4 separate regions of the Homo sapiens genome follow, and all the other regions are linked to region 1. Evidence: fine-mapped expression QTL. A gene starts in region 1. Each other region holds a variant in brackets. All regions are shown on one strand. Distances are from middle to middle.

Region 1 (8,071 bases):
AGGCCAGGGAGACGTCCTTTGCACCTTTCAAAGGAGGTCCCATTCAGCCCCTCCCAGGAAGAGGCCAATGGCTGCCCCAGAATTCCCAGCAGGATTTGTTCCTCTTGGATCAGTGAAAAGGAAAATGGAAATATAAAAATAATAACTGGGCCCCAGGAAAGAACTTGGAGATGGGGGTGGCATCTCCTGCCTGGCTCCGGCTGGCTGGGCGAGTGGCAGGTAACTGACGGGCTCTCGGGACCAGCAGGCCAGGCAGGCGGGCGTGGGGAGCCCGAGGGGCGGGCTGTCGAGGGAGGGCACGTCTGTTGTGTTTGTCGATCTCCTGGCAGCCTGGACTGGGAGGCCTGGGTCCCCTTTCTCTGCCTCCCAGGCAGGTGGTCCCTTGGGGAGGGCTCATTATTGGTCTGAGAGCCAGGGTGGAGACTGGGGACGGTCGCGCTGCCAGGGGCAGGCAGAGCGGGTCAGCGTGGGTCTCAAGGAGCATCTGAAGCCAGCAGCTGGGCCGGCAGGACCTGGGGTCCAGGCCCAGCACCCAGTTTCTGCATGTGGCCTGGATAGGGGGAGGGGGTGCTCAGCCTCTACAGCTGTGTGGATAAAGAGTGGACGACTGCTCCAGATGCCCACTCCCTAGGGAGAAGTCGAGCCACACAGAAAGCCAGTGAGCCAGCTGCCAGGTCTGGGGGGTCACCCCCCAACTCCAGGAGAGGGTGGACTCAGGGCTCCTGCCTCAGACTAAGAAGGTTGGGCCAAGGCTTCCAGCTCTTCAGGGAGGTGTAACCAGGATGGGGGGGTGGGGTGGGGCACCGACCCGGGAAGCCCTGATGGCAGAGGGCACTGACCTAGGGTAGGGGGCAAGACCCAGCCAACCATCTCGTGGGTCACTGACCTCAGAAAAACCGCCCTCCGGCGGGGGGCAGTGACCCAAGATGGGAGAACCGAGGAGGGGACCGACCTGGCAGGGTGGGGAGGGCTGACCCATACTCCCCATCTGGGAAAGTGGCACTGATTTGGGCTGGGGGAGGGGTCCTGGACTCGATCGGGGGAGGGGACAATGACCCAGACTCGCCGGGTTTGAGCGAGAGTGCTGATTTAGGCTGGGAGGGTCCCAGCCTTGCGCGGGCTGGGTCACTGCCCCAGCTTCCCCCTCGGGGAGCCCGGTCCCGGCGCGCCCCTCTGCCCGGCCCCCTGTTCCCGGTCCGGCCGGAGGCGGCAGCGGCGCAGATGGGCTGCTGGCGGCCGCAGCGCGGTTATCAGCGCTCCTCGCAGATGGGCCGCCCGCCCTCCGCGCTCGCGGCTCCCACTCCCCGCGGCCTGCAGCCCCGTCCCCTGGGCGCGGGGGGAGGCGCCTCCGGATCTGCTCCCCGGCTCCCGCCTCCCTCCCTCGCGGCCCCCTCACCCCGCGGGCCCGGCCCGGGCGGCCGCGGAGGGGGAGGGGGAGGGGACAAGTGCACTTTTCGTAACGACCGAATCAATTGTGTGTGAAGAGCCCGCTCCGGCCGGGGACGGGGCTGAGCGCGGGGCGGGCGGGCCGGCCGGGGGAGGAGCGCGGAGGGGGGAGCGGGGGAGCGGGGGAGGGAGGGAGGCCGGCGCGGGGCGGCCCGGCTCTCGCGCTCCGGCCGGGGAGGGAGCAAGGAGGGCGGGGGGAGGCCGGCGCGGCCCGACCGGGCCGGGGGCGGAACGCACTAATGGAGGGTCTCGGCGACGGAAAGTTCAAAGCTCAGCAGCGCCCCGGGAGCGGCCGCCCCCCCCCCAGCCCCCACCCTCTGCAGAACAATGAGGTCCCGGCGGGGGAGCCGCGGGGCCCGCGCCGCACGCCCTCTCCAGGGCGCCCCGGGCCAGAGGGGACGCCCCCGCCCGGCCGCCCGCCTCCTCCCTTTAGGCGGCTGCGGTTCCCCGCCCCCTCCCCCACGCCACCCCGCCCGGACCGGGCCGGCCCGGGGGACGGGGGAGGGGAGGGGATGGATAGGTCAGGCCTCCCCCGTCCCATGAAGGGGGAACGAGGGGCCCGGGGGGCTGAGGGGGCGCCCCACCCACCCGCGGGAGGCTGCTCCTGCGCCAGGCTGCGGCTCCGGCCGCCCCTCCCCGGGCCAGCCCCGGGTGGGGTCGGGGCGACAGTGCCCGGGCGGGCCCCCTCCCCTGGCGCTGGGAGGCCCGGCGGACTCCCCGTCCCGCGGCTGCCCCTGCCTCCCTCCCCCCCCCCCACCCCGCGGCACCACCCTCCGCGCGCGCACACACACACACACACACACACACACACACACACACCGCCCAGCCGGCCCGGGGGCGGGAGCGCGAGGCGCCCGGGACAGGCAGCCCCGGGGCGGGCGGGGGGAGGCTCGGGCTCCAGAGCAGCCGCCTGCTGGCGGGGGGAGGGGACAAGAGGACGGAACATGCTGGGGTGAGCAGCCCGGGACAGCCTGCCCGGCACGGCCACGGCCCGGGCAGCGGCGCGGAGGGGGGCAGGGACGCCCCGAACCCGGAGCGCTGCCCAGGCGAGCCGGGAAGGGCCGGTGAGCAGGGACGCGTGCGCCTCCGGCGGGCCCGACACACGGACAACCTCAGGGACACACGTTCGGACACACATCCACACCCCCACCCCGCCCCCGCCCGCCTGCCCCAAGCCCCGCGGCGGGACCCGCCCGCGGCCGCCGCGCGCGCACTCACCGAGCCCGTCTTGACCGGCACATACACCACTTGGCCCATCTTGGGTTCCCGGCCGCTGCCCAGGCGGAAGCCCTTGGAGCGCACCCAGAACTGGAACTTGCCTTTCTCGCCGGCTGCGGGGCCGCTGCCCGCGCCAGTCCCGCCGCCGCCCTGCAGGACCTCGGCGATCCGCTGGTATTTGCTGCGTGTCACCGTCTTGGTTTTGGCCGAGTCGCCGTAGGTGCGCAAGCACCAGTCCCGGAACTGGCGGCCCAGCTCCGAGTCCCCGGGGCTGCGCTCGCGCTCCCAGCCCCCGCGCAGCAGCAGCGTCGGCTTCGGCATCCTCCCGCCGCGCCCGGCGCCCTCGGGGGCGGGCCGGCCGCCGGGCCGCCCGGTGCCGGGACTGGGCTGGGCTGGGCTGGACCGGGCCGGGACGCGCCGCGGCCGCGTCTGTCCCGCGGTGTGGCTCCGGCGAGGCTGCTGGATGGGCGCGGGCGGCGGCCGGACGCGCGGGGCTGCGGCGCGCTCTGTCCTGCTCGGGCGGCGGCGGCGGCGTTGGCGGCGGCGGCTCCGGCTCGCCTCCTGCTCCGCCTCCTCCTCCCCCCGGCCGGGATGCAGGAGCGATGGAGGCAGCTCCGGGCCCGGAGGTGCAGAGGGGGCGGGCCGCCCCGCGGGCGGCCGGGGGAGGCGGGAGGCGGGGAGCGGCCCCGAGCGCTGGGAGCGAGACCGAGCCTGGGCGCGGGCGGCAGCAGTGGCTGTCAGCTTGCGCGGCTCATCCTGCTCTTGCTCAGGCTCCCGCTGCCGCGGCTCTTCCTCCTCCTCCTCCTCCTCCTCCCGCGCCCGCCTCCACCACGCCGCGGGATCCCACCTGTTAGAGCGGCGCAGCCTTCGCCGCCGCCCGCCCCCCCCTTCCTCCTGCGCCCGCCCGCCGGGCCCAGCCCCCGCCCGGCCCGGCCCCTGGGGGCGCGGGGGCAGCCGCGCCCGCAGCCGCCGGGAGGGCAGGAACCACAGGCGCGCAGTGCCCAGCCCAGGAACCGCGTTCCGTCTGGCCGGGCCGGGCCCGGAGCTTCGCAGGCCCCGCTCCTCCCGGACGCGGCGGTCCCGCGGGGAGTAGGGCGCAGACCCCAGCCCAGACGCCGACCTCCCGGCCGCCCCGCCCCACTTAGCCAGGCCGGGAAGGTGTAGGGCAGGCTCCCCCTCCCTCGCTCCCGCAAGTGACTTGACCTCTCCCGTGAGCCGAAGCCAGAAGAGCAGTGTTCCCCTGGGGGAACCCCACATCGCCGCCCTTCGGGGCCCCCAAACTTCCTCTCCTTTTGCCTCACCCTGAATTCCCCGAAGTTTGGCCAGCTTTGCCTCTGCTTGCCTGCCCCACTGCTCTGGGACAGGCCCAGGCCCCCTGGGAAGTCGCCTGTGGCCTCAGCCCAATCCCACCTCCGCTTCAGAAAACTCTCAACACATCCACAAACTCATCCTGAGACACCCTGCCTTCCTGAGTGCGCCTTGACCTAGAATCTCTTGCTGAGTAAACTCAGGTAGCCCCACCGCCCCCCTCCTACCTGGGCAGATCTGACCTTGGGTAGAGCTAGCTGGTCCCCTCCCCCTTAATGAAATTACCAACATAAATAAAGGCACAGGCCAATTCCCCAGGATTTCTGTGCCCCTACCCCCCACTTCCTTAACAGGTCATGAGGAATTGCTGCACTTCTCTCCCAGCTGTCCCCGGGGGTCCACCCCATGTCCCCATGACACTCCTGCAGGCAAGTCACCATCCAAGTCCTGAGGCCCAGACTTTGTCTAGTGCAGGACCGTTTCCTGCGTAGGAACTACTGTCTACTCCCATCCCAAAGTCCCCCACCCCAGGACCTACTACGTGCCATGTCCTGGCAACTCTGAGAGGCAGAGGGAATGGCTCCATTTTACAGACGAAGACCTGGGGCTTGGAGAGGTGGCCTGACCTGCTCAAGGTCATGCAGGAAGGAGGGGTGGGTTTCAGCTCATGTGCATCTGGCTGCTGCTGCCATATCACACACAAACTCTTCCCCTTTCACCGCGCTCGGAGAGAGCCCCACGCTGTGTATACCTGGCTCACTTCCCCCAGTAGACAGGGAGCTCCAGATGCTCAGGGCCATATCTGACCCATCCTCATATGCACAGGCCCTAGCACAACACCTGGCACACAGTAGGTGCCAGTAAATGCTGAAAGAACCCTAGAGGTCTCCCAAGCCCCAACCTCTCTCTGCATTTCACATGGGAGATTATTTTTAGATAATTTACATTTCATGTTACTTTATATACACCAACAACTCCACAGTCATTTTTCCTCTTTATCTTCTCAAGAGCTCTTTTTGGATCTATGCTGGTATGCATGCCCGTTTTTAAGAGGTGACCACTCAGAGCGGGGAAGGCACTACCCAAAGGCCAGCCCCAGGGGCGCAGGGGCTTCTGTGATTAAGAAGCTCAGACCCTGACTTTTTCCATGTGTCCCTTGACGGTTATCCTTCCAGCACACTCTTCCTGAGAGCAGAGATGCTCTAGCCTGGCAATGGTAATGATAACTGTGGCAAATATGCCCTGTGCCTGGGTGGTGGGGTCCTTGTGTGAGCCCTGGTCTCTCTGTCCAGTTCCAGGACCCACTTCAATAACCACTAAGCCGGACCACCTCTCCACCCAGGCTGGGTCTTTGCCTGCCTTTCAGAAGCTAAAAACCTGGTTGTCAATCTTGGGCTGAGTTCTGGCACAGCAGAATGTATAGTATAATGAAAAGAACATGGGCTTCGGGTGGAGTCAGATTTGGAAGTGAATCCTGATGATTATTTGGCGTGGCATTCTTCATGCTCACAGGTCCCACTTGGCTACTTCACAATGGAATGAAGCCATCATTCCACCCTTTGCTGGGTAACCTCAGGCAGGTCACTGAGCCCCTACTTCATCATCTGTATAGCGGGACAGGATGTCACAGATGTAGAGATTCAACAGGATGAGAGTGCCTGAGCTGTGACGGGTGCCCAGTAAGTGCCATTTTCTCCCTCATGGGGCCTCGAAGTATTCAAGGAGGAAGACAGGCATTGTTGGCACTTTTTGTGCTTCATTCATTCAACAAACATTTGTTTAGCAGCCATTGTGCAGCAGGGGCTTGGGATATGGTCATGGGATCCCCAAGGTCCCTGCCCTACGGGAGTGCACCAATGGGTATGGAAGATGGCTATTGAACAAACCAGCTATTGATCACAACAGCCCGGGGAATGGGCCACGAAGGAAAGAGAGAGCTGTGATAGCAAATAATGCAAAGAAGGGGCTGCTTTTCTTAGGGGGATCAGGGAAGGCCCCTCTAAGGAGGTAGCATCTGAGCAGTGACTTAAATGACAGGTGCCAAGGCATGCTGTTCCTGCATTCCAGGATGAGGGAAGAGCAAGGGCAAAAGCCCCAAGGTGGAAGGAGATTGGCATTTTCTAGAAGCTGGAAGGTGTCCAGTGTGGTGAGACTGAAGTGAGGGAGGAGGGGTTGGAGGGCAGGAGTCTTGAAGACCCTGGGAAATACTTTGGATGGCATTCCAGCTGCTATGGGAGCTACTGGCGAGTTTTAAACGAGCAGGACTGTGGGGTAGAGAAGAAGTGAGGAGAGGAGGGCAGCTGCAGGGGTCCAGAGGTCTGTGGTCTTGGAGGTCAGAGGCCTGGAGGTGTCCCTACTGTGTGACAGCTCACTGCACCAGGCACGTCCCAGCCTCTTGCCCCAAGGGCTCCTGGGAGAGTGGAACAGCCAAGGAGTGAGAACAGCCTACTGCGGCCCATCCCCACTTTTGCAGAAACAGACCCTGGGTCTTCAGCCTATCCGTGTCACTGGGGTCCTTTAGGAGGGGCATGCTGGGTGGGGTGTGGGGTAAGTCTCCCACAATGCCCAACTCCTGGGGGGATGCAATCACGGTCCCAGGGGGCAGCTGCTCTTTTTTGATTTCCATTCCAGACACCTGCCAAAGGAAAAAGTAGGCTGCCCCATGAATCAAAGGCCAGGAGATCCTCTGCATTTTTAAAAATTTTGAGACAGGGTCTCGCTCTGTCTCCCAGGCTGAGTGCTGTGGTGCAATTGCTGCTCACTGGAGTCTCTACCTCCCAGGCTCAAGTGATCCTCCCACCTCAGCCTCCTCAGTAGCTGGGACCACAGGCATGCACCACCACACGCAGCTATTTTTTTTTTAATTATTTTTTGTAGAGACAGAGTCTCTCTTTGTTGCCCAGGCTGGACTCAAGTGATTCTCCCGCCTTGGGCTCCCAAAGTGCTGGGATTACAGGCATGAGCCACTATGCCCGGCCTCTGGATTTTTTTTTTTTTTTCCACACTTCGTCCAGGTGTCCAAGGGAGACTGGAGTTGAAGCACAGGGAGTCCAAGCCCCCAGGGCTCACGTCCTCTCTGAATACAGATAGTAACGTAATCACTCCTGGGCTCAAGTGATTCTCCCGCCTTGGACTCCCAAAGTGCTGGGATTACAGGCATGAGCCACCATGCCCGGCCTCTGGATTTTTTTTTTTTTCCACACTTCGTCCAGGTGTCCAAGGGAGACTGGAGTTGAAGCACAGGGAGTCCAAGCCCCCAGGGCTCACGTCCACTCTGAATACAGATAGTAATGTAATGGGTCACAAGAGCTTGGTGATGAAGGGTTCTCAGAGTATACAGTCCAAACCCTGCCTCTGATAGATGGGTAAACTGAGTCCCACAGGAGCAAAGAGGCTCAGGGCCGCAGGACAGAACCAGGTACCTGGCCTTTGCCTGATTTGGCCCAGATCACCTGCCTTTCACTGAGCTCTGACCCTGGGCCCAGATGAGCGGGGATGCCTGCAACTTGACAGTGAGGTGGCCCTGACTGTGCCACAGGAAGTTCCAGGCCTGGGGTGGGGCAGAGTGACTCAGGCTCCCACAGAGGCCTGTCCACGCAAGGGCCAGGAAGAGCAGAGAGGCCCCAGAGCCTTGGGGAGAGGTAGTTACCACCACTGGGTGCTGGTGCCCCTTCTATCAAGGGCTTGTGCCACCACCTGCCATCCCCCTATTCTATAGCATCCCCCTGCAGTCTGCCAGCCATGCTGAGCCGCTGCTGTACGCCCACCTCTCTAGAAAGGCCTCCTGACCTCTCAGGTTGGGTCAGGGGCTTTCTCTGGTCACTCATAGAGCCTTGGGCTTTCCCCCTCCCAGCTCTGACCACAGCATTTCACGATGGCCTCATTACCTGTGTCGACCAGTGCCCAGCACAGGAGCTAAGGCTTAAACGTTATTGAATAAATGGATAAATAAGCAACCAACCAACCAAATGAATGAATGAATGAATGAATGGGCTTATCCTCAAAAAGCAGGTGCTAGACTGAAGTCTACAGCATTTTCCACCATGCTACTATGCTTCCTCCATAATCAATCCATCCATCAGCATTTATTGTGCTTCTC
Region 2 (8,071 bases), 55 kb before region 1:
GTGCCTCGGTCACAGGACTGCATCAAGGCTTGAATGAGCATGAAGGGCTTGGCTTTACTGGCTTCCCTGGGCACTGGACAAATGGTTCAGAGCTATGTATGAGCTGTGGATAGGCCCACATGTGGGTCAGCAGGAGATGGATCAGAACACAGGCAGGCCCCTCTGCAGGGTGAGGAGGGGCCTCTGGTCTGGCCAGTCCCATCTATTTCCACCTCCCTGGCATTTGTGATGCTTCCTGCCCCTAGGTTGCCTTTTTTGCCCTTATGCCTCCCCAAAGCGTAGAATGCCAGTACAGGTGTCACCTTCTCCACACAGTCCCCCGGGCTCATCTGTGTCTGGCGGTGCCTGTGCTAAATGCCCCTGAGCCTGGGTTCTTGCTCTCTCAAAGCGAGCCTTGGAGACATTTCTGCTTCTCATGTATCTTGTTTTTGCTCTCAGCCTCCCCACCCCAAATCCAATTGTGATCTCCTGGAGGGTGGGGAGCAGGTCCTTCGACTTCCCCTGGGGAACTCCCAGTCCTGACTTCACAGGATGAGCTCACACATAGGAAGAGCTCAGGACAGGCCTGGCATGCAGTAAATGCCATGCCATGAAGGCATTTGCTCCTCTGATTATTATCTGTCCCCAGCACCCCAGCCCCAGAACAGGCTGCAAGGGGCTGGGGGTGGTGTCGGGTGGGAGCAAGTGAAGCAGAAACGGGGAAGAGGAGGGCGCCTCCTGCCCTCATCCCTCTCCTTCCCTCCCTCTCACCCCCTTCAACCTGCTTTTCCTTTGTGCTCAGACCACAGATTCCCTCCCCTCGCCCTGTGAGCCATCTCTGGCTGCCGTGCCCTTGCCCTGTGCCCCCCTAGATCCCCAAAGGCCGTTTCATCACGCCTCAGCTCCCTGCCCCGCCCCCCAAGCCCAACATGTGCGGAGCCCGTGGCCTCCTGCCAAGGCCTGGGGCTGCCAGTGGAGGCAAAGAGACAGAAATCTCACCGCTCGGTAGGTTTTCTTCTGCCCAGCGTGCTTGGGGGCTTTGCCTGGCTCCGCTGAGCTCTCCACATGCATCGAGTAGATGATGTCAAAGAAATCTTCCACCACAGCGACCCGCTTCAGAGAGATGCCCTCTGGCTCCGACAGGCCATCTGCCCCCTGCGACAGGGTGGACAAGCTGTGTTAGTGTCAGGAATGATGGCGGGGTGAGAACTGGGCCCTGAGGCCGGGGCAAGGGGTCAGGACGGGCAATGCCTCCGACAGTGGGTCTTGGGGTGGGGAGGGGAGGGAGCCTACCGAGGGGGCTCCCTGGAGGGGGACGCCAGAGTCAGGGTGGCTGCAGCTATGAAATCTACCAGCAACAATGGGCAGAGAACGGCGACAACGAAAATACAAATTAAAAAACCAAGAGGCTCCATGTTCACAATTTCAGACAGATTGTGCCAGACTCGGGCGGGGAGCTCTTGAATCACACGCTGTGCCAAGACCATCCTGGAAGTCTCTGGGGAGGGGGGAGTGCTAAATAGATGCGGCCCCATCAGGAGCTCGCCAATTAGCAGTAACCTTTCACTGTGGGCCTGGGCTGGGGTCCCGGGGGAACAGCTCCGATCACCTGGGTGACTCCTGCCTCCGCCCTGGCCTTTCTGAAAAGCTTTTCGCGGCTGCCTGCCCTCCCCACTCCAGCAGCTGAGCGCCAGCAACGGCACCCGGGCCCTTTGTGTGTGGAGATGTACAGAATAACAGGCACGAGGCCACGAGGAGGTGGCAGGGCCGTGTGAACGGGGCGGCCGTGGGCCCCGAGCCTCTTATCAGGCTGGCTGAGTGGTGTCAGCTGGCCCGACTAGGTGTGCCAGGAGCAAGACGGGTCCTTCAATAGCAAACAGCTGTGGGGCTGACGCCTGCCCTCCCCTCCAGCAGGAAAGGGGGCTGCAGGGAAACCACAGGGCAGGAGGCTGGGGGTGAGGCCAGGGCCCGGAAGGGAACGGACTGCTGGGGAACTGCTCCGTGCAGGCAGTCCTCACAAGGGAGATACACAGACCCAGAGACACTAGGCTGTCAGCCACCAGCTCCTTCAGGGGAGTCTGTGGGGACGTTAGGGGGCTTTGAAGATCAAGAGCAAGCCATATGGAGGGAATTTGAGGGGAAAGGAAGCAGGCTTTTCTCTAAAAGTGCCCAAAAGACACATCTCCAAGAGAATTCTTCCCCAAAGGACCCCAACTCAAGGATGTCAGCAACAAGAGGATGTGGGCTTCGCCTGCTCCTTCTCAGCTCTCTCCAGCACTTACAACAGTGCCTGACACATAGTAGGTAGTCAGTAAATAATGACTGAATGACTGAGTGGTCATAAGTGGCAGCTGGGCAGGGTCACTTGGACACACTCTGCCATGGTTTGAATACGGCCCCATCATGGAAGTGGCCCTGTGACCCCGAGCACTTACTGTGCTTCGAGCTTCAGGCCCTTTATCTGTAAAATGGGGATAACAGAAGCCCCTTTCCCATGAAGAACTGAGTTGTGTGTGCAGCACTTGGCACTGAGCCTGGAGTACAGGGATTGCTAGATATTGTTATTAAGAAGTGCTTTGCAGTTCACCATGTTTCCCCCAGGTATGAGAGAGCCGAACACCGGGGCAACCCTCGGAGGTTGTTAGGGTCAGGACCTGCCTGAGGTACAGTGGCTGGTGGATGGCACAGATGGCTTCAGACCTTGGACTCTGTAGTCCAAGTAGAATACAGGCCACACTGGGAGGTGACGCTCGCTCACAACACGTTCTGGCACAGACAGGTCTTGGTTTCACCCAGTAGCTTTCTCGACACACCATGATGGCCGAACAGCAGTGTCTCTTCACCAGCAGCCCATTCAAGAGCAGAGAGCAGATGGGGGGCAAAGGGCATCTGGGATGTGGGGTCCCGAGCCCCACAGCTAGCGGGCAGTGTCCCTAAGTGGTAACCCTGGGAGGTGACCTCACTGGCCCCAACAAGGCCCTCTTGCCAGTGGCTTCCTTCCTGGTCAGAACCCATTTCAGTGGGACGTCTCAGATAGCACATATCTCTCTCTCTCTGTGTGTACAGGAGAAGCCACTTGCTGGTCCAGCTTCCTCGCTGTGAGATTATGGGCAAACCCTTCAACCTCCCCGAGCTTCATTTATGAGATGAGCTGTAAAGTTCCATGACTTTTCTGCTCTTAACCTCTCTCAGGAATCAATTTTACCTCTTTTGGGGAGTATCCCACCCCCTCCGACATCTCAGGCCATCTGTACGGGCTGATCAATGACTAACTTGTTCACTATTGACCCGTAAATGCCCAGCATTACAGGGCTCTTCATATACTGCCATGACAGGGTTGGGATGGGACAAATATTATGATAGGTCAGTTAGACTTTTAAAAAATTTTTTACTCAGCAAAGATATGGATTTGGGATGTACAGTTATAATACACTTCTAACCAGAGGTTCACATTGGTGAAAATAAACAAAATGAACCTTAAGAATGAATATAGCTGGTTTTGGCTGGGCGCGGTGGCTCACGCCTGTAATCCCAGCACTTTGGGAGGCCAAGGCGGGTGGATCATGAGGTCAGGAGATCGAGACCATCCTGGCTAACATGGTGAAACCCTGTCTCTACTAAAAATACAAAAAATTAGCCGGGCATGGTGGCGGGAGCCTGTAGTCCCGGCTACTCGGGAGGCTGAGGCAGAAGAATGGTGTGAACCCGGGAGGCAGAGCTTGCAGTGAGCCGAGATCGCGCCACCGCACTCCAGCCTGGGCAACAGAGCGAGATTCCATCTCAAAAAAAAAAAAATGAATATAGCTGGGTTTCTATTTGTTGATCTGGGCAGTAGTTATAGAAGTGTGTTCAATTTATTAAGTCATTAAATCTTAACACTTGGCCGGGAATGGTGGCTCATGACTGTAATCCCAACACTTTGGGAGGCCCAGGCAGCCAGATCACCTGAGGTCGGGAGTTTGAGACCAGCCTGACCAACATGGAGAAACCCCGTCTCTACTAAAAATAGAAAATTAGCTGGGTGTGGTGGTGCATGCCTGTAATCCCAGCTCCTCAGGAGGCTGAGGCAGGAGAATCACTTGAATCCAGGAGACAGAGGTTGCAGTGAGCTGAGATCACGCCATTGCACTCTAGCCTGGGCAACAAGAGTGAAACTCCATCTCAAAAAAAAAACAAAAACAAAAACCTTAACATTTATAATCTGTGTATTTCTGTATGTCTGATAAACTTTAATTTAAAAAACAGTTTTTAAAAAGGATATCATGGGGGTAGTTCCACTGAATTTTTAAATTCAGGTAAAATACCCATGCAGAATGTACCATCTTTACCATTTTTAAGTATAGAGTGAAGTCAGCCACATTTGGATCACCTGAATCCAGAGGCATAGCTCTAGAGGCTTAGCTGCTTAAAGGCCAATAGACCTCCCTGTTCAAAATTGTTTCAGACCAGAACACAGATATTTCTGGAAAAGGAAGGAGATAAAATTTTGTGGGAAGGAATGGAGAAAGAAAGCAATCTGATGAGGAGACAATATTTTATGTAGGTGAGATGGAAATTTCCCCCTAACCAGCTTGTGGGGGCCTTAG[G/A]TGGGTTACTTTATTTCTATACCTTTTTTTTTTTTCTTTTTTTTGAAACACAGTCTCACTCTGCCATCAGGCTGGAGTGCTCACTGCAACCTCTGGCTCCTGGGTTCAAACGATTCTCCTGCCTCGGCCTCCCAAGTAACTGGGATTAAAGGCGCCTGCCACCACACCTGGCTAATTTTTGTATTTTTAGGAGAGATGGCGTTTCACCATGTTGGCCAGGCTGATCTGAAACTCCTGACCTCAGGTGATCCATCCACCTCAGCCTCCCAAAGTGCTGGGATTACATGTGTGAGCCACTGTGCCCGGCCTATTTTTATACCTCTTGAAAGTCAGTTTCCGCACCTATAAAATGGGCCTAAAAAGTGCTAGTTGGATGTTCCAAGGATCAAGAATGTATGTCAGGCATCCAGCACATACAGACTTGGTTAATGTTCATCTCTTCCCTTGGACCCCTCTGAGTCTGGACATTTTGTGTTTAGGAATCTCCTCTTATCTCTGGTCCCTCTGACGCGTCCAGAGGGGACCCATGACAAAATGTGTCCCCCTCAGTAACACCCACCATCAGAAGAGATGCACAGTCTTATTTAATTCCTAAATAATATGCTAAGGCTCCCACAAACTTGGAATAAGCTTTCCAAAAGTCAAAGTGTAATTGACCAACCCAGATAAAAAAGCAAAACGTACTGTCCCATGTGGCCTGTCTCTTCCCAGCCTCCCACCTGCCCTCTTAGGTTGACTCTGGTAAACAACAGCTTTGCACCTGGTCCAATGTGACCATAAAATTAATCCCAGCAAAATTATTCAGGGAAGCAGTTTTCAGTTAGTTCCTTCTTTAAAAATTGATCACTTTCTCCCTTAATGTTCAAATTTGGGTCCTGTAATCCACCTATCTCTACAGCAAAGATTTACATAGGAAAGGAGAGGGCCTGGAGCGACCAGAACTCAAACCACGCAAGGGCTGCAGAGCCATACCTTGAACTGTCCTCTGGTGAGCTAGGGCCACCTGGATTCCATGTGTGCTACACCCTAGGGGAAGAACGCCAGGATGTCTACGTGGCCTTCAAGGAGAACCCTGAGAAGACAGCAACAAAGGGATCCGACAGTAGTCACGTGCCGCAGACATCTCTGCTATCCCTTGCATCCATGGAGGTAATAACCTTCATGCTAAATGCTGCAGGGGAGGCAGGCCTTCCCTAGCTAAGGATCCAGACAGTGCTGCAAGGGAAGAGCTGCTAATAAAGGAAGCAGAAAGCACCTTCCCTGTAGACTTGGGAAGCCCCTGCCATCCCCCTTCTGCCTGGTACCCAAATTAGCTTCATCTAATCCATTGCCCTAAGCAAACTGGACAGTGAATTGACAAAGGAAGTTCACTTTATCTATAGGCTGGATCAAGAAGGGACTTGGAGTCTCCTGCCTATCCCAGCTTCCTGGAAACACCTAGCAGGAGTAATGGAATGGAACCCTGTATCACCCCATGGGAAGAACCACGAAAAACACACAGTCACTTGTGTAGGATCAACCTCTGGGGCCTTCCTGCATGGAGAAGAACATTGCCATGGTAACACACACCATCCTTTCGAACCATCCAACCCCCAAACAGCCTGCCAGAGCCAGGCCAACAGAATCAGACATGGCAATAGTTTTAAAAATTTATGGAGAAGCTGGGCATGGTGGCGCATGCCTGTAGTCTCAGCTACTCAGGATGCTGAGATGGGAAGACCACTTGAGCCCAGGGGTTTGAGTCTAGCCTGGGCAACACAGCAAGACCCATCTCTAAAACAAAAACAAAAACAAAAAAAACCTACACATTTATGGAGCTACATTCTTGGACATCACCAGCTCCCTTAACACCAGCCCATTTGGGTTCTAAATGAAAAGCTAGGTGGCAAGTCATTGACAAAATCACCAAATGTCTACTTAAATACATCTGATATTTCAAAATATTACAGCAATGGTCCTTAGACCAGCAGCATTGGCATCACCTGGGAACTTGTTAGAAATGCACATTTTCAGGTTCCACCTTAAACCTACCAAATCTGATGTGCTGGGGGTTTTAACAGGCCCCCCCAGATGATTCTGATGCAAGACAGATTTTGAGAACTGCTGATCAGAATGTCTCCATGATTGAGCCAGGGAGGTAACTGTAGGAAAACAGGTATTGGCTCATTAAATATAGACATGCTCTGTGCTTCCTGGCCTAATATATTAATATTTTCATTTCCGATGAAGGCCAATTTTCCTAATGGTGAGAACAAAAGAATCTTATTGGGCAACATTAGTATAAATTCAACACATCTGCCCAGAGACTTAATGTGGATTATGGATAGAAAGAGCAGGAACGCCCTGCATCCTGACATCAGATTTTTAAGTCCTCCCTGGCAAAGTTAATAAATACTTAAGCAGGGCATCCCTTGGCAGGTCCTTTCTGGCTTCCTCGTTTTCCTCAGATGGATCTGAATGCTCAGCATGCTAATTCCCAGGCTGCAGACCTAAGAGGGGGATCGGCATGTCTTACCAGGCCATTAGACAGGCTCCTGCCGGGGCGACCTCAGGGAGCTCCTGAATCGGACTGAATCTTGCCTGTCTCCCCACATGAGCCAATTAAATGGACCCCTGCCCCTGATGGTGAAGTGAGGTCCAGTTGCTAATGGATTGCAGTTCTGTCATCTCCATTAGAGCTTCGAAGTCACTTGCTGGTAATAAGTTACATACTTATCAAGGTGGGATCACAGTTTTAGGCCACCAGGGTGCCATTTAGTGTGCCACCATCACTATATTAGTAGAGTGTGCCTTCCAGCAACGACGAGGCCATGGTTGAGAGGATGCGGCTAAATAGCGGAGACATTTCTCAACTGGGTTTCTCCGATGGTAGAAGAAAAAACCACAGAGAAAGGCCTTAGGATAGGCCTTCTGGTGCATTTCGGATCCAGCTCTTGACAAGGAATAAAAATCAACGAGATTGCTATTGGACGAGAAAGTCAGCCAGTAGAGCCCACCCCAAAGGAAGCAAATCTTTGGCTACCACGTGGGAGGGAGCCCAGGACTTCAGGGGGCTGATTGCACAGGCAAATGTGAGGATGCCGCTCCATCCCATCCAGGCCATCAAAGTGGCTGAGATCACAGACAAAAATTACCCTGCATATTAATTACTAGCATGCTCTTCCCAACTTCTGCAATCATGCCATTCCTCCTGTCCCCAAAACCCAGCCTTAATAAATTCAGTCAGGGCTGGGTGCAATGGCTCACGCCTCTAATCCCAGCACTTTGGGAGACAGAGGTGGGAGGATCGCTTGAGCTCAGGAGTTCAAGACCAGCCTGGGCAATACGGTGACCCCCACTCCCCCCACCCCCCGCCGCCAGGAGGTCTCTACAGAAAATGCAAAAAACCTAGCTGGGCGTGGCGGCATTCGACTGTAGTCCCAGGTACTCAGGAAGCTGAGGTGGGAGGATCACTTGAGCCTGGGGAGGTGTAGGCTGCAGTGAGTCATGACCGTACCACTAAACTC
Region 3 (8,071 bases), 130 kb before region 1:
GGAAACAGCAGCCAAACAGGTGACTGACTCCCAGGGTGTTGTCACAATGCGGGACTGAGAAGCTTGGAACAGGAGTGCCTCTGCTAACTTCTGGATATTGCAGGGGATGGACCCAGAGGGATGCGGGGGAAGAGGGTCTGGTTCTCTCTAGGGTGGTTCTGGTCCCCTCTGCGTCATGCTTGGGAGTGGCCAGAGCCTCCTGGCATAGTCAACATGAGCAGTGGTCCCGGTTCCTTTCTTTTCTCCTCTCCCCAAGTGCTATCCTGTTCATGCCTGTGCTCAGAGCTTCCTCCCTTCTCTCCTGGGCTGTAGCTGAGGCTTGGAAAGGAGAAGGTCCCTGTTTCCTGCAGCTGATCTGATCTGGAGACACCCCCGTGTAGACTCTGGTTACAGCCAGATGCTCAGGTTGCCGAGGGACTGCCGTATGGTGGGTAGAGGGATAGGAGTGAGCATGAGTTACCCAGCACCCCAGGCAAGACAGGCCGAGCCTGATTCTATCTAAGCTGATTTGCATCTCCAGATGACAACATAATGAGCAAAGTGAGGAGCTCTGAGCCATTAATACGGCTGCCCGGCTGAGGTACCAAACTGATTGAACAATACTTGAAAGGCTGAGGCTGGGGAGGCCAGTGGGGCTGGGTGGCCCTGCAACCACGTGGCTGCCTGTTGTCTTCCTTCAACTGCTGGAGGATTTAAACAATGTTCTTCAAATGAGGTACTAGTGCTCAAGGACAGGGGCTGCCCCAGGCAAGGAGGTAAATGACCAGATTTCTGCGTCAGTGGCCTCCCCACCCACCATGAAGGAACCAGGGTATTCACAGATGGGAGACTGAGACCCCAGGATGCACAAGGGCAGAGCCAGCTGCCTCCCTGGAAGAATCATTCTCTGGCTGCTGTTTGTGCCTCTTGGGCAGGTGTGAACGGGCAGGCATGAAGCAGGCTCAGCCCTAATATGAGAGGCCCTTAGGAGGGTCAGGGGGACTTGGCAGCCGCAGCCCTGAAATAGGTCATGCTGGGTGGACACCAGGTAGAGGCTTGTCACCATCGCCTGCTGCTAGGAGGGAGCAGGCCCCAGACCACCCTCACCTCACCTGCTGAGCCCCAGACCCCCATGTGTAGGGGGGGCAGGGCTTTTCTTCCTGGAATGAAAGGAGCCCGCCTAGGACAGCCACTCCACCTCTCACCGTGCTGGCCACTCCGGCCTTAGCTTCAGGGATTAGGGCCAGGCGGCCTCTTATTTTAGGTTAAGAGGCATTAGGAAGGGATGAGGAGTTAAGCCCAGGCAGGAATCTTCCAGGGACCTGCATACACTTCCTGGTTCTGGGGGGTGGCGGGGGTCAAGGCGAGTGGAGGCAGCCTGGGCTTCCTGCCATGGGTGGGGACTAGCTCCCTCCCTTGCTGCCCAGGAACAGTGAGGGGTCTCCTGCAGCCAAGGATGGGGGCTTAGGGAATCCTCAGGCATGTTTAGCCAAGACCTTGCACCAGGGTTCCCCAGCTTACAGGTGGCACCTTTCTCCAACCTACTCAGGTTCCTCAATTCTTCCCTTCATTCCCTGGCTTCTGAACGACCCCCAAAGCACATGGCTTCTGCCTCTTGCTCTGCCCATTCAAACCTTCTTACAGGGGCAGACAGAATGACACAGACCACACAATTCACGGCCCTTCTGTGCTTAAAACCTAGCAGGGGCTCCTCCTGCACACAGAACACAACCCGAGTGCCTGGCCCAAGAGGTCCTGTGACCCACCAGGCTGACCCCACTCCTCCCCTGCTTCCCTTGGCCTCACAGTAAAGGGGTCTGAGGTTCCCCATTCCAGTTCGTGCTCACGGCAGCACCTGACTCCATGAGGAAGCCTCTGTCTCTTCGGGGGCTGTCTCCTCTAATGGTCTGTGCCCCATCTGCGCAGAGTAGCCTGGGGAGTTACCGGAAAAGCACCTACTGAATCACCCAGCTACAGGAGCGGAGCGAGGGAGCAGGTGTGCACCATCACCCCAGGTGTCTCAGATGTAGGCTCCATGAATGCAGGGGCAAGAACGGAGGCCCAGCACCCAGGTGAGGAAAGCTTTCACCTCACAAGGCAGGCCCTGAGCTGAGGCCTGGGGAGGGAGCCGCCCTGCAGGCCAGCGGGGCCACAGCTGGGCCAGGCCAGCAGCTGTCTCACTGAGCCTCAGTCGCTATGGGTGAGACAGACGGGGCTGCGGAGATTCAACTCAGGCCAAGAACAGGCCCTTGGCTGGGACTCGGCACCCACAGGGACCCTGGGGGAGTGGAACCAGTGAGAGGCGCCGGTAGTGAAGGTGGGAAGTGTTGGAGCAAGCGTCACTGGCGGTGAGAAGGGGGCGGTAGGTTTTTGCTTTAACCAACTGAGTCTCCTTCACCTTCCAATCTAAGGACCAGCTAAGACGATGAAGTGGAAGGGTGCCAGAGCCGCCCCTCCTGCTCCCTATGCTGTGAGGCAGCCCCTTTCCATCACTGGCCTCTGCTTCCCTCTCCCCATTCCGCTGCCCAGGGCTGCTCTGCAGACCCAGCTGGGTGCTGGTCGGGAAGCCAGAGCCCAGGCCTCCCCCGACTCACCATTACTGTGGTTTCCTGTTTGGAGGGAGGCAGGGGGCTGCAGGTTGCTGCTCAAGGCCCCGTACCCGCGGTAACTGTAGTTGAGGCCGCCGTTGGCGTACACAGGGTCCTGGGAGTAGGAGGAGGCTGGCAGTGAGTAGGTGGAGTGGGTGATGGCTGCGGAGTCCCGCGAGTGCTGCTTGTCCAGGGCTATGGGCTCATCCTGCAGAGGGGAGAGGGGGGCGCTGGGGAAACCAAGGGGCAGCTGGCCCCAACTACCATCCCTGGACACAAGGTGGATAAATGCTGCGGCCCCAGGACTCCTGGGACCCAATGCTGCGGTTTGACCTGTGGGATTCTGTCTGTCCCCTCCCCCAGCCACCTTCCCCCCGGGGGCTTTCCCCAACTCTGCTCATCTCCCTGTCAGCGTATTTGATCAGGGCCCTCTGGTCTCCAGATGAAGTCCAGGCTTCCGTATGAGGTCTGAGGAGCTCTGAGAACAACACACCTGACCTCCACCCACCTCCTCTCCTTGTCTTTGCCCTCCTGTTCCCCCTCTGCCCTTCTCCCGACTGTACCCATCACAGCTCCCTCAGTCCACACCCATATAAGGCCTGCCCTCCCTGGCTGCCCAGGAGCGGCCCCTGTAGTGGCTGCGGTGGCAGGTACCTGTGAGGACTGGTAGATCTCTAGACGCATCCGCTTGGCTGCCTTTCTTGTCTCGCTCTCACAGGCAGCTGCCAGGATGTTTTCTGCCATGGCCGAGGTCAGATGGGGTGGCGTGGGTCTGGTCTGCAGGCAGAACGGGGATGGAGCTAGCATGGGGCCCGTGGGGGCCCTGGGCTTGTGCAGAGACCCTGCCCCAGGGGTGGGTGGCACAGGGTGGGGTTTGGGCTCCAGCGCCTCAGTCTATGGAGCTGTGTGATCTTTCTGGGCCTTAGTTCCCTCATTTGCAAACCAGGGATTATGGTACTTGCTTCCAGGGCTCCTGGGAAGACCCTGGGTGAAGGGGCCCGGGCATCCTGGGAGTGTGGCAGGAGGTCAGTAGTGGCACCGAGGGAAAGTGTGGGCCAGGCAGGGGGGACTCACCATCTCCATGCCGTTCTTCTTCATGCGACGGCAGGACTTGAGGTACGTGCGGATGCGCTTGCGGGCCCGCTCCTGGAACTCAGGGAACTGCCGGCTGCAGGACTCGATGATGGCCTGGATCTTCTCCTTGGGCTGCTTGGAGATGGGCACCATGCGGTCCAGGTTCTCGTCCACAAAGAGACGCACAAACATCTGTGGAGACACGGGCCATGGGAAGGGCTGGCCCTGGCCTTGCCCCCATCCCACCCCACCTGTTTCCGGCCGGTGCTCACGTTGAAGGCCTTAAGACGCTCAGGGTCCATGCCTTCAGAGTCGTTCATCTTGTCATTGTCCTCATGGTCATCGTGGTCATCGTCGTCATCATCTGCCGTCGGGGCCCGGCCCACTGTCAGGTCCTCAGGGCAGCCGCTGACCTCGGTCTTGATGGAATCGTAGCTCCCAGAGCTGTAGGGGGGGGACTAAAAGGAGGGCAAGAGGCAGAGGGTTGGGCCAAGCAGCTGCTCAAGCCCTTGCTGGGTCTCCTACAGGCGGTGAGCTTGGGGACCAGGGTGGCACGCATGCCCTGCTGCCACGAGAGCCATAGCTGCGAGGCCCTGAGCAAGTCACTCCCCTCTTCTGCTCCCTTCATCTGTGCAATGGGGACAGCAATGCTACCACCTCCCTCCCTGGGCTGCCGCAGGGAGGACCGACTGCAATAGTGTATGCAGAGACCTGGTTCCCGGGGCTGCTGAGCGCTTAGGAGGGTGTCAGCTGTTTCCTCAGCAGAGGCCAACACCAGGACCTGCCACGTGTACAGGGGAAAGGCAGACATGGAAAGGACTCCCACCACCCGCCAGCCTCCTCTCGTGCCAAGATATATTTTGGCTTCGGGGTTTTCCTCCCTGATCCCCAAGGGGCTGCAACCCCAAGTTGACAACCGAGCTGTCACCAAAGCAACGAGCATGCTGTCTGTCGGGAGGAGGAACAGATGCGCTGGGCGAGGTAGCCAGCCAGGGCGACAGGTCCGTTCAGCAGGATGCGTTCCCGCAGCTCCTGAGCTGGACTTCTCCTGTCTGCCCCCCA[C/T]CCAGGACAGCACAGTGGCCCCTTGAGAATATGCGGGTAGAAAGGGAGAGGGAACCGGATCCGGCCTCCCCCAGCAGTCTCCTGTCCTCCAGTAGAGAAGGGCTCCAGCCCTCTGCTCCCACCACGAGTTTCTCCCTGGCCAAGCCCCTCAACCATCTCTCCTTAGGAGCAGCTCCCTCTTTTCCCCCATGCCCCTCCATCTTCTCATCCTTCATGGCTCAGCTCCCACACCACCTGTCTCCTGCCCCTGCCTCGGGGCACCGCTCTGGGACGGCTGAGGACCACTGTTGCCTTTCGGAAAGTTTGTGCCTTCGATGTGTCCTAAGTACTCGTTCAGATCGTGACTGACAGTAGCCTGGGGACACTGTCCCTGCCCTCAAGGAGGTTGGCATCTAGCAGGTAAGGCAGGCTCAGGGAACAGGTGGCGGTATGGTCAGACCCTGTGATGTGGCAGCATGGCCATGGCACAGCCCGGAAGGGAACAGCACTCACTGAGGAGCAAATCCAGGAAGAAGGGCATTGCCTGGCACCTGGTCCCACAGCACGGCCCCCGCCAGGCCTCTCTCCCTGGGACCAGGCCCGCAGGGGTTGGTGCCCTAGGGTCACTGGCCTGGTGCCTGTCTCTTCGTCCACATACAGACTTGGATAGGGGCAGGATGCCGAGGGCCCCCGCTGGCTACCATAACTGGCCGTGTGGCCCCAGGCAAGCCACATTCCCACGCCACTCCTCAGCCAAACCCTGAGCCAGGGCCAGGGCAGACAGATGGAGAAAAAACTAAGATAGGAGCTGCTGGTGGCGTTCCTGCTCTCATCTCACTTCCCTGGGCCCCCCATGTACCCTGTGGCCACAGTGGCAATGGCTGCTGAACACAACTCACCCCCTTCATGGAACAGCAGCTATGCCTGTCCCTTGGACCCAGGCAAAGCCTGCTCTGGCCAGAACCTGCTCCCAGCCACCTGTGCTAGACACATAGCAACAACTCAGCACTGAGCCCATGGTACAGAATGTCCCCACGAGACATTCCAAATGAGGCAGGCAGTAGCACCTACTCCACTCTCTCTGCAGAAGAGAAAACAGGCCCAGAGAGGGAGAAGAGCCTGTCCAGAGGTGTAAGCTCCAGGAAGGCACCTCTGGCCCCCGGGCCCAGGTTGGAGAAGAGGCACTACTACAGGAAACCTTAGTGGCCCGGAGGCAGCTTGTGGAAGTGTGGGGGAGGCCCCAGGAAGCAGGGGGGATGCCCACTGGTAGGGGTACGTACTGTGCCCACCCTTACCACCGTCCATCAGCCTAGTCAAAGGAGGAGTTCCACTGCCCACATCCCTGGGCCCTCGCCCTTTTTTCGCACGACCTATAAAATGGGGACAGGCACGCAGACAAACCAGGCAGTGGGAGGCCTCGTACCTGGCTGTGCCGAAAGTGGCCACTTGCTGTTATCCCCAGCAGATGCTGTTCTGGGGGAGGGGGATGGGTTGTGGGGATGCATATCCACCTACCACCTCTACCAAGGCAGGGGCCGTCAGCTCCACTTCACAGGCTCGGAGAAGGGGGCCTGGCTTGGGGGCACACTCCAAGCCATCTCCCATTCCAGAGCTTCACCAGGAACCGAACACATACCAGCCACAGCCACCACCCTGGCTCGGTGTCACACACATGGGCTGGCTCCAGCTAAGCTCTGGGCGTATACAATTTCATTCTCGCCTCGCGACAGCCCTTTACAGAAAGAAATGGACTCAGCCCCCAGCCCCACACACCTCGGGGGTGGTCTTCACCCCGTATTTGACGCGGCTCCGCAGCCCGTCGGCACCGCAGCCATCCGAGGGGTAGGAGGCTGTGCCAAGTGCCGTGGCCGGCGGGAGCTTGTCACACAGGTTGATGGGCTGATCCTCGGCGGCCGTGGTGAAGTCCATGGGGGCCACGGCGCCGTTGCCATTCATCTCGGGGAAGGCAGGGTCGCCCTGCGTGCTGCTCGACGTGGATGGGTTCAGGGTGGAGGAGCCATTGCCGCTGCCACTCTCAGAGGAGGAGTCATCTGGAATGAGAGGCCTGGGTGTGAGGCCCCACCCAAGGCACTGTGGCCACTGCAGCCACCTCGGAGTATCCCACCCTGTGTCCTCCTCATGAGTGTCCCTGGGTTGGGGTGAGTGCTGCTACCCCACCTCAGAGGCAATTTGCCCCAGCCCACAGCCTCAGCTGAGGCAGCCACAGGGTCCCCTCTGCCAGAACAGAGGGGCCATCAGGAGGGGTGTGGCCAGGCAGGGCTGTGCAGGGCATGGAGGGTCTTCCTGCACCCCAAACTCGCAAGCGTTATGTCCAGGCTTAAGGGAGACCGAGCTCCAAGGGTTTGGGAGTGAGTGGCCTGTCAGAGGGCCCTGGAGGCCCTCGAAGCCCGGCCAGGCTCTCCCTTCTCCCCAGCTCCCAGGACCGCACCTCCCACCCACCCTGCTCCTGCTGCCGGGCACTGCCTTGCAGCTTCGAGCTCTCAGAGCCCCTGCCCACGGTGGGCCCTCAAATGTCTCCTTCCTCTGCCGGAAGCAGGAAGGATGGCTCTACTGTGACCTCCAGCCATTCACTCCCTCCTGTAAGCAAGCCCAGCCCTGGCAGCCTAGGCACAGGCACGGTGGCCCCCGAATCTGCGCTCCGTGCAGGCCCCACGGCCTGGGACGTGCAAAGCCGGGGCTGCAAGGTCTGGGGTCTGCACGCGGCCCCCGAGTGGGCCTGCCCGGCGTCTCAGGGTGGGCAGCCCCGGCAAAGCACTGCGAGGGCGCCCCCTGCCGCAAAGAGCGCGGCACCGCCAGCCTGCGGGCGCGGGGGAGGAAACTTTAACCAGGGGACCAGACAGTTCCAGATACATTCCAGGCCTCTCTGCCCACCCAGCCCCAGCCCCAGCCCCGGCCTCCTGCTTGCTCAGCTGAGACGGCAGAGGCTGAAGCTGCACGGGAACTCCCGGGGTCACTGTCAGGTGAGCACCCGCGAGGGTCCCGGGGAGGTACGGGTGACCCTGGCGGCTCCACACCTGCACCCAGAGTGGGTGGGGGAGGGGTGGTCACAGCGGGCCCTGCCGCCCCTTCCCCCAGGCCAGGGTCACGCCGGACCCCACCCCCACCCTCCCAGCCGGCAGATTATGAAGATTTAGTCCCCGGTGCTGGGCACTGGGCACGCGCACCTCCAGAGCGTCCCCATGGCGACCGAGCGGCTCTAGCGCCCCAACCAATTGCTGGCCTCCCGGCTGCCCGGGGGCGGGTCCAGGCTGCCCATCATGCAGCCAGGCCGGGCAGAGGGGGATGGGAGGCCACGGCGGCGCAGTGCACCCCTCCCCCTCGGCTGCAGCAGGTCCCCTGGGCCAGGCGTCCTGTCCTCCTTCGGGCAG
Region 4 (8,071 bases), 87 kb before region 1:
CATTCTTTTTCTCTGCCCAAGCCTTCGGCATCTTAACACCCAAAGTGATTGTCAAAGTTTAGTTGATGGTGCCCAGGCTGTGGCAGAGACTGTGAACCAGTTTTCTTGATATTATGCCCTGAATCAACATTCTCCCTTATCTTTTTCAACCACAGAGGGTAGAAACATGAAATTCTTTCTTTCCCAGCCTCCCTTACAACTGGGAACCACGTGACCCTTTTGCAGCAATGAGACATCAACACAATGCCTCGAATGTGGACAAGGTTGGAGCAATAGCAGGCAACTTGCAACCATGAGGAAAAGCCTCAATAACATCACAGAGACACCAACCCAACATTGCAAATGGCACCAGCGGCGGCTCCTCCATTCTTCTTGTTTTAGGAGTAAAATAACTTCATGTTTTGCTATAGTCAACTGGGTTTGGGGGCCTGTAGTCAAAAGCATTCCTGGCTTATTCACATGGCTCCTGTCCGCGGGTGGACTAGATGGCAAGGATCCCCCACTCCCATGTGGCCTTTTCTCTTTCAAGAGGACACAGGAGCCTCTTGACTCTTTGAAGAGGACACAGGGGTGCTACGCTACGTCCAGGCACCTGCTGTGCGTACTGTGGTGCCTGGGGAGCAGACAAGCATTTAGTTCCCTCACTTGTGGACTCTGAAGGAGGGAAAACTGTCACGGCTGCAGCACAAGTGTGCCTGGGCACTTCCTCAGCCACAGGAGTATCCCAGTTAAAGAACATCTTCTGTTTCTATCTTATCTCTTGAGGTATTTAGAGCCATTCTAAATGCCAGAGCCTTAGAATGACCATGGGGCTGGCAGGGCATGGGCTCTGTGACTCATATCTGTCGAGGAGGCTGCTTGTGGTTGTGCTGGATCGAGCCCCTCTCCTTGACTATCTTCGGCACCGCAAGCCAAAGCTCAGGGCTGCCCGGGCCTATTCCTGAGGTGGTGCAGGAGAGGCAGATGGGCTGCTGGGGACGAAAGGGGTAGGTAGGCGGGCTCTGGGCTCCGTGCCCAGCATTGCCAGCAACATGCCTGTCTGCTGCTGACCCCTGACCCACTCAACTTCCTCCCCAGAAGACAGTCCCTTGAAGAAAGGGGTTCCTCCATCAAAATGTAAAATTTGAAAGCCACAGATGTCTGACCCAAACCTGCTGATCTAGTAACAGGGAAGCTGCAGCATGAAGAAGTTAGATGGCTGGGGCGCAGTGGCTCACGTCCCAGCACTTTGGGGAGGCTGAGGTGGGGGAATGCTTAAGCCCAGGAGTTCAAGACCAGCCTGGGCAACATGGCGAGACCCCATCCCTACAAAAAATACAAACATTAGCTGGGCGCGGTGTTGAGCACCTGTGGTCCCAGCTACTCAGGAGGCTGAGGTGGGAGAATTGCTTGAGCTCAGGAGGTCAAGGCTGCAGTGAGCTGTGATCATATCACTGCACCCCAATAAAAGAAGTTAGATGACTCGTGGGGCAGAGGCACACCTAGAACCAGAGTCGCTGGACTCCCTCTCAGGTGCTCATCTCCACTTTCGACCTGAGACAGGCCCAGGTCCCTGCCCTGCTTCCCTCTGGCAGAGAAAGATCACCACTAGGCTTCACATCACAACACATGTGCACCCGGCTGGCAGGCCCTGGGAGAGCTGCCTTTGAAGACGGCTCCCAGGCATAGCTCCCCCTTACTCCTCTATCTGAGCCCCACTGCTGTTCCTACCCCAGGGTCTTTGCATGTGCTGTCTCCTGTGCCTGGAAAGCCCTCCCACTTCATCTCTGCAGGGCTGGCCACTTCTCACCATTCAGGCCTTGGCTCGGATGCTGCCTCTTCAGAGAGGCCTTCTTGCCCTGAGGCACAGTCTGTCATCTTACTCTATTTTAATTATCTACCCCAAATTTCCTCCTTTTGCATATTTTTTTATATTGCCTTGTTTATCATCTCCAGGCCTGTGAGCTCCTAGGGATGGGTACCTTATCTGTCTCATTCACTGTGGTATCTTCCGTGCTTGGAATGACCTCCAGCATGTAGTAGGAACCTCGGAAATGATTTTTGAGTGAAGGAAGGAAGAAATTTCTTTCTTTCTTTTTTTTTTTTGAGAGAGTTTCACTCTTGTTGCCCAAGCTGGAGTACAGTGGCATGATCTCAGCTCACTGCAACCTCTGCCTCCCAGGTTCAAGTGATTCTTCTGCCTCAGCCTCCCGAGTAGCTGGAACTACAGGTGCCTGCCACCACAGCTGGCTAATTTTTTGTATTTTTAGTAGAGACAGGGTTTCATCATGTTGGCCGGGCTGGTCTCGAACTGACCTCAGGTGATCCACCCGCCTCAGCCTCCCAAAAAGTGCTGGGATTACAGGCATGAACCACCACACCTGGCCTAGGAAATTTCTTTAAAACTACATAATGCTGTGTTGCAGGGAGGACAAGGGTCTGGTCGGCCGTGAGCAGCAGCTGTGCTGTGTGCCTCTCAGTCTGAATAGGGGTCGGGGAGCTACCCGCCTGCCGGGATCCACACCCAGTCACCCCGAGCAAAACAAAGCAGACAGCACAAATTCACAAAGCAATACTGTGCCCTCCTACCCTCAAAAAAAAAAAAAAAAAAAAAGCCCGATAATGAGGTAAACACAATCATGACCAGGAAAAAGCTTGGCCATGCTTCTTCCAGTCCACCCAAAGCCATTATCTCTAATTGATCTCCAGACATCAGCTGCTGAAGCGTCTGAAACCCTCCTGCACCCTCCAGGTCTGGTTACAAAGCCCTGGCCCACCCACCCGCCCCATGGAGTCAGGTCTCCTGGAGCTGCTCTTTGCTGGGGGTGACAGGGCCTATCTGGGCCCCACATGAAAAGGACCCATCAGGCTGACAAGAGTCAGGGTGGGTCAAGAACCTGTGTAAAAGTCACAACCACTAAATGCTCAGCTGCCAGGGGGCTGAGCTGCCTGAGTTTCAGTGCCTTAAGTAGAAGGCTTGACAAAGCCATCAGGGGTCCCGCATTCAAAATAAAAAGCAAGGAAAACCAGGGACGGCTGCAGAAAAGCACCCTGCCCAAAATATCCCACTAGTTCTGGGTGAAAGAGGCACCCAAAAGCTGGAGTGAGGAGTTTAGTTGCAAAACGGAACGGGACTTAGCCACAAGATCACGAATCCCTTCTGGGTCTTGGTTAGGCTGTGGCGGTCACAAGGGCAGCCATCAGTACAGGGACCATCTGGATGTTTTGAGCTGCTCCTTCCTGGCCCAGCCCAGGAAAGACGTCTCCTTTCCTGTTAGGTCTCTCTTGTCCTTAGAAACAGACCGGAGTCAGCTCCCTGGGCTGCCTGGCAGGGGTGTTTTACTGCCAGAGCTCTGACAGGACAGAGCCACTTCCCCCCTTCATTCATGGACGCCCAGGTAGCAGCTCCTGACCTGTGCAAGCTTTTCCCTTGACACACACAAAGCGTCCCGAGGCCAGCCCTGCATGCAGTATTGCTGCTTATGGCACCAGGCAGCTCTCCTGCTTGCACCAGTAAATTACGAGTGCTTCCTGCATTTTTTCCCCCAGATAATAAAGTTGAAAGGCCACCTTGGCATTCTCGCATTTGTAGG[G/A]GTGGAGGTCTGCAGCCCGGAAGGGGCTCGAGCCTCAAGGAGCTGCTGGGGACAATGAGCTGTTCAGGTTCGGGGTATCTGCCAACCCCACCAGACACTGGCTCTCCAGACAGGGTGGTGGCTGTTTTCCACTTTCCCACACAGCTTCAGGGAAGTGAGAGGAAAGAAAAGACACAGACCTCTCCCAGCTCAGGTTGCCCTCACAAAACAGAGGAAATGCTCATTTTCTGTGAGAATTTGGAAATTGTAGTAAGTTTCTAGAAAGCACCCCAGGATGTTCAAGAACATATACTGATTGCAAAAATAATGTCCCATAACAAAAGATGTTTGACAATGAGCTTTTCACGCCTCTCTCTGTTCTCTTAAAAAAAAAAAAAGCTTTCTGATAAATCATTCCCTCTCAAGTTTAGAAATGCCCTATTTTCACAGGGCATGGTGGCTCATGCCTGTCATTCCAGCACTTTAGGAGGCCAAAGTGGGAGGATCGCTTGAGCCCAGGAGTTCAAGACCAGCCTGGGCAACACGTGAAGCCCCATCTCTATAAAAAGTGCAAAAAATTAGCCAGGTGTGGTGGTGTGTGCCTGTAGTTCCAGCTACTCGGGAGGCTGAGGTGGGAGGATCACTAGAGCCTGGGAAGTCGAGGCTGCATTGAGCTGTGATTGCACCACTGCACTCTACCCTGGGCAACGGGAGTGAGACCCTGTCTCAATAAAAAAAAAAAAAAAAAAAAAGAAATGCACTATTTTCTTTGGGAGGCCCAGAAGTTCAAGATCAGCCTGGGCAACAAAGTGAAGCACTGTTTCTACTTAAAAAATTTTTGTGTTTGTTTGTTTTTGAGGCAGAGTCTTGGTCTTGCTCTGTTGCCTAGGCTGGAGTGCAGTGGTGCAATCTCAGCTCACTGCAACCTCTGCTTCCCAGGTTCAAGTGATTCTCCTGCCTCAACCTCCTGAGTACCTGGGATTACAGGCTCCTGCCACCACGCCAGCTAATTTTTGTATTTTTAGTAGAGACGGGGCTTCACCATGTTGGTCAGGCTGGTCTCAAACTCCTGGCCTTGTGATCTGCCCACCTTGGCCTCCCAAAGTGCTGGGATTACAGGCGTGAGCCACTGCTCCTGGCCAAAAAAAATTTTTTTTTAAATAAATGCCCTATTTTGCATGATACCATTTTAGGAGGATGGGGAATGCTGTGCTGTCCATGTTTAGAGCCCCCCGATCCTGACACTGGGCTCATGGTGCTCCTGGTTCTCAGTCCACCTCTGTTTGTCAGTGAACAAAGAGGCCTGGGATAAAGTGTCTTCACATAATGCTCATGTGGTCAGATCAGTGGTGCTGCTGCAGTATTTTTCCTCCACCAAAAAGCGGATACAAACATTTTTAGGCATTAAAGAAACAATTTTTGGCTGGGTGTGGTGGCTCATGCCTGTAATCCCAGCACTTTGGGAGGCTGAGGCAGGCAGATCACTTGAGGCCAGGAGTTTCAGACCAGCTTGGCCAACATGGTGAAACCCCATCTCTACTAAAAATGCAAAAATTAGCCGGGCATGGTGGCAGGCATCTGTAGTCCCAGCTACTCAGTCAGCTGAGGCAGGAGAATTGCTTGAACCTGGGCAGCGGAGGTTGTAGTGAGCCAAGATTTTGCGACTGCACTCTAGCCTGGGCAACAGAGGGAGACCTTGTCTCAAAAAAAAAAAAAAAAAAAAAAGGAACAATTATTTTTTTCAAAGTAATGCCTTTTTTCAAGCCAGCAAAACTTTTAAAAAGAAAGCCAACAAAAGAGGAACAATTCCTACTAGATATTAAAACATATGATAAAGTTTTCACACTTAAAACAGTTTGGTAGCTGCTACATGAATAGTCAAGGAGCCCAGTGGACCAAACAGAAGTAGATTCTGTTTTGGATGGAAACTTAGTAAGTTTTAAAGGTGTCATCTCAAATCAGTGGGGGAAAATGGAGTATTTAACAAATGATGCTGAGACAAAAGGGTTAAGCGGAATCTGTATCTCAGAATACGTCAGCATAAGCTCCAAATGGATCAAAGATTAAATATAAAAAATGAAAATAAAAACATGTATGCTTTTTGCTCTGTCAGCTGGAAGAGCCTGCAAGAAAGGATACTTCAGTACCAATGGGCACACATAGTGCCCAGATCTTGTTTTTTTGTTTTGTTTTATACAAAATATATAGAGATGAGGTTTGCCCAGGCTGGTCTTGAACTCCTGAACTCAAGAGACCCTTCTGCCTTGGCCTCCCAAAGTGTTGGGATAATGGGTGTAAGCCACCATGCCCAGCCAGATTTTTTTTTTTTTTTTTTTGAGACGGAGTCTTGCTTTCTTGCCCAGGCTGGAGTGCAGTGGCACAATCTCGGCTCATTGCAAGCTCCGCCTCCCGGGTTCATGCCATTCTTCTGCCTCAGCCTCCCAAGTAGCTGGGAGTACAGGCGCCTGCCACCACGCCCAGCTAATTTTTTTGTATTTCTTTCTTTTTTTTTTTTTTTTTTACTAGAGACATGGTTTCATCGTGTTAGCCAGGATGGTCTCGATCCGATATTTTGGTTTTTAATATGGTTTTCCAATAAAAGGAATCAGAGCTCCTTGGAGAAATCACTGATTCCAGGATTGGGGCAGGAAATATGCAAGATGAGCCTGGAGTCTTACAGTGCCAGAAAGCAAAGAAGCACTAAAAAACAAGAAACGAACAAACAAAAACCCCAAACACCAATGAGGTATGGCAAAAGAGCACAGGAAACAACTGAAAAAGCTCCAATGGCCAAAGCTAGAACAATTTGTACAACAAAATGAAGAAGTATTGAATGATCATCAAAGCATAAAATAAACAGCTATGAGTCTCGACTTCTATAAATGGCTGAATAAATTAATAAGTGGGGGAGGAGAAACAAATCTCCTATGCATAAGCAATCTAAATAATTTACGTTGATAATTCACCCTAAAAAAGGCAGAACATGACTCCCCACTCTTCAGGTGTGGGCTGCACACGGTGCCTTCCTTCCCAAGTGCACAGTGTGGAAAGAGGGAAAAGTCACTTGACAGGAGAGAAACCTGACAACCAATATCTCAACCAGGTGTGATCAAGGCCAATGGCAACAGTCCTAAATCATGTTGATATTATGGACCCTTAACAGGATGTGATGAAAATGACACTCCATGTCTGTGGTCTTCCTCCTAATAACCCATAACCCCGGTTTTATATAGAGAAAAATGTCAAATTTCTAAATCCTACAAAATACACAACTAGTACTCTTCGAAACTGTCAAGGTTATCAAAAACAAGGAAAGTCTGAGAAACTGTCAAAGCCCAAAGAAGACTAAAGGGACATGACAATTAAATGGAATTAAATGTTACAATGAAAATTAAATGTTGTATCCTGGATGAAATCTTGGAACAGAAAAGGAAATTAGGTAAAAGCTAAAGGAATCTAAATAAACTGTAGACTTTACTTACAATAATGTATCAGTGTGGTTCATTAGTGGTAACAAATGTATCACCTTAATATAAGACATTGATAATACGGGAAACTGTGTGTCGAGGAGTGGGCAATGTGGATACTCTGTACTATCTTCCCAATTTTTCTGTAAAGTTAAAACTGTTCTCAAAAATAGTCTATCAAAAAAAAAATGAAAACATAAAAATACTAAAAGAAAACATGGGGGATGGAGTGGAGTTAGCCTTTTTAAGACTCAAATGCAGAAGCGATTTGAAGAAAAAATTGATACATCTGAGTACATAAAAATAAAAATGACAACACACACAGCATAGGCAATATCAAAAGAGAGAGAGCTACGGATGGGGAAAAGGAGGCAATGACTAACTCTGGGGAATCCGAAGAAAGGAAATGTAAGGAAATGTAATCATAGCATATGTTAATTGGGTCAGCTATGAGTAATATGCACACAGTCATAATAATATAAACAATGAATAGCAATTTATCTAAATAGAGAGGTATAGATATGTTGCAGGATGGAGGAAGGAGAAATAATAAGTGTATTTATGAGAGGGTGTAAGAGTGCAAATACTTATTTCCTACAGCAAGAAATTAACAACAACAAAAGCCCCAATTGAAAAATCAAGAACTTATAGTATAAGCAGGTTATTCCAAAATAGGAGTTAAATACCAGAAGAGACAGCTAAAACATAAGAAAGAAAAGAGGCTGTCCCTAGGGAGTAGAAATTGAAGTGGGGAGGCTGGGGCAGGGTCTGCTATTTTTCTATATGATTTTAAAAAATGTATTCTAGAGGCCGGGTGTGGTGGCTCATGCCTGTAATCCCAGCACTTTGGGAGGCCGAGGCAGGCGGATCACCTGAGGTCAGGAGTTCAAGATCAGCCTGGCCAACAGGGTGAAACCCCGTCTCTACTGAAAGTACAAAAATTAGCTGGGTTTGGTGGCAGGCGCCTGTAATTCCAGTTACTCAGGAGGCTGAGGCAAGAGAAATGCCTGAATCCGGGAGGCGGAGGCTGCAGTGAGGATCACGCCACTACAC

The links. PIP is the estimated chance that this variant, and not a neighbour inherited with it, causes the effect.
Region 2: its variant is fine-mapped to the expression of NOL4L in whole blood (INTERVAL, PIP 0.96).
Region 3: its variant is fine-mapped to the expression of NOL4L in T cells (TOPMed, PIP above 0.99). The same link has a PIP of 0.9 or more in aorta, blood mononuclear cells, breast, gastroesophageal junction, lung and memory regulatory T cells.
Region 4: its variant is fine-mapped to the expression of NOL4L in whole blood (TOPMed, PIP 0.98).

Annotation. Positions count from the first base shown.
Region 1 is chr20:32,581,906-32,589,976 of GRCh38, forward strand. It overlaps NOL4L (nucleolar protein 4 like), which reads right to left and starts at 3,428. Exons shown (of 11, transcript NM_001256798.2): 1 at 2,665-3,428. The coding sequence starts at 2,985. It overlaps NOL4L-DT (NOL4L divergent transcript), which reads left to right and starts at 5,574. Exons shown (of 3, transcript NR_034152.1): 1 at 5,574-5,651. RefSeq lists silencers at 1,341-1,550, 1,721-1,940, 2,051-2,100, 2,161-2,370, 2,401-2,600 and 4 more and an enhancer at 4,001-4,080.
Region 2 is chr20:32,526,780-32,534,850 of GRCh38, forward strand. It overlaps NOL4L (nucleolar protein 4 like), which reads right to left. Exons shown (of 11, transcript NM_001256798.2): 2 at 979-1,134. Among named protein-coding and RNA genes, the nearest start is that of NOL4L-AS1, 30 kb to the right of the region's middle. RefSeq lists enhancers at 1-2,532, 7,847-8,071 and a silencer at 516-689. The variant G/A (reference allele first, on the strand shown) is at 4,566.
Region 3 is chr20:32,449,663-32,457,733 of GRCh38, forward strand. NOL4L (nucleolar protein 4 like) reads right to left here. Exons shown (of 11, transcript NM_001256798.2): 6 at 6,456-6,733; 7 at 3,914-4,099; 8 at 3,642-3,833; 9 at 3,222-3,344; 10 at 2,574-2,775. Among named protein-coding and RNA genes, the nearest start is that of ASXL1, 95 kb to the left of the region's middle. RefSeq lists enhancers at 6,924-7,839, 7,840-8,071 and silencers at 7,233-7,502, 7,513-7,562, 7,993-8,071. The variant C/T (reference allele first, on the strand shown) is at 4,704.
Region 4 is chr20:32,494,485-32,502,555 of GRCh38, forward strand. The region is part of intron 4 of NOL4L (nucleolar protein 4 like); the gene reads right to left. Among named protein-coding and RNA genes, the nearest start is that of NOL4L-AS1, 63 kb to the right of the region's middle. RefSeq lists an enhancer at 2,461-2,977. The variant G/A (reference allele first, on the strand shown) is at 3,573.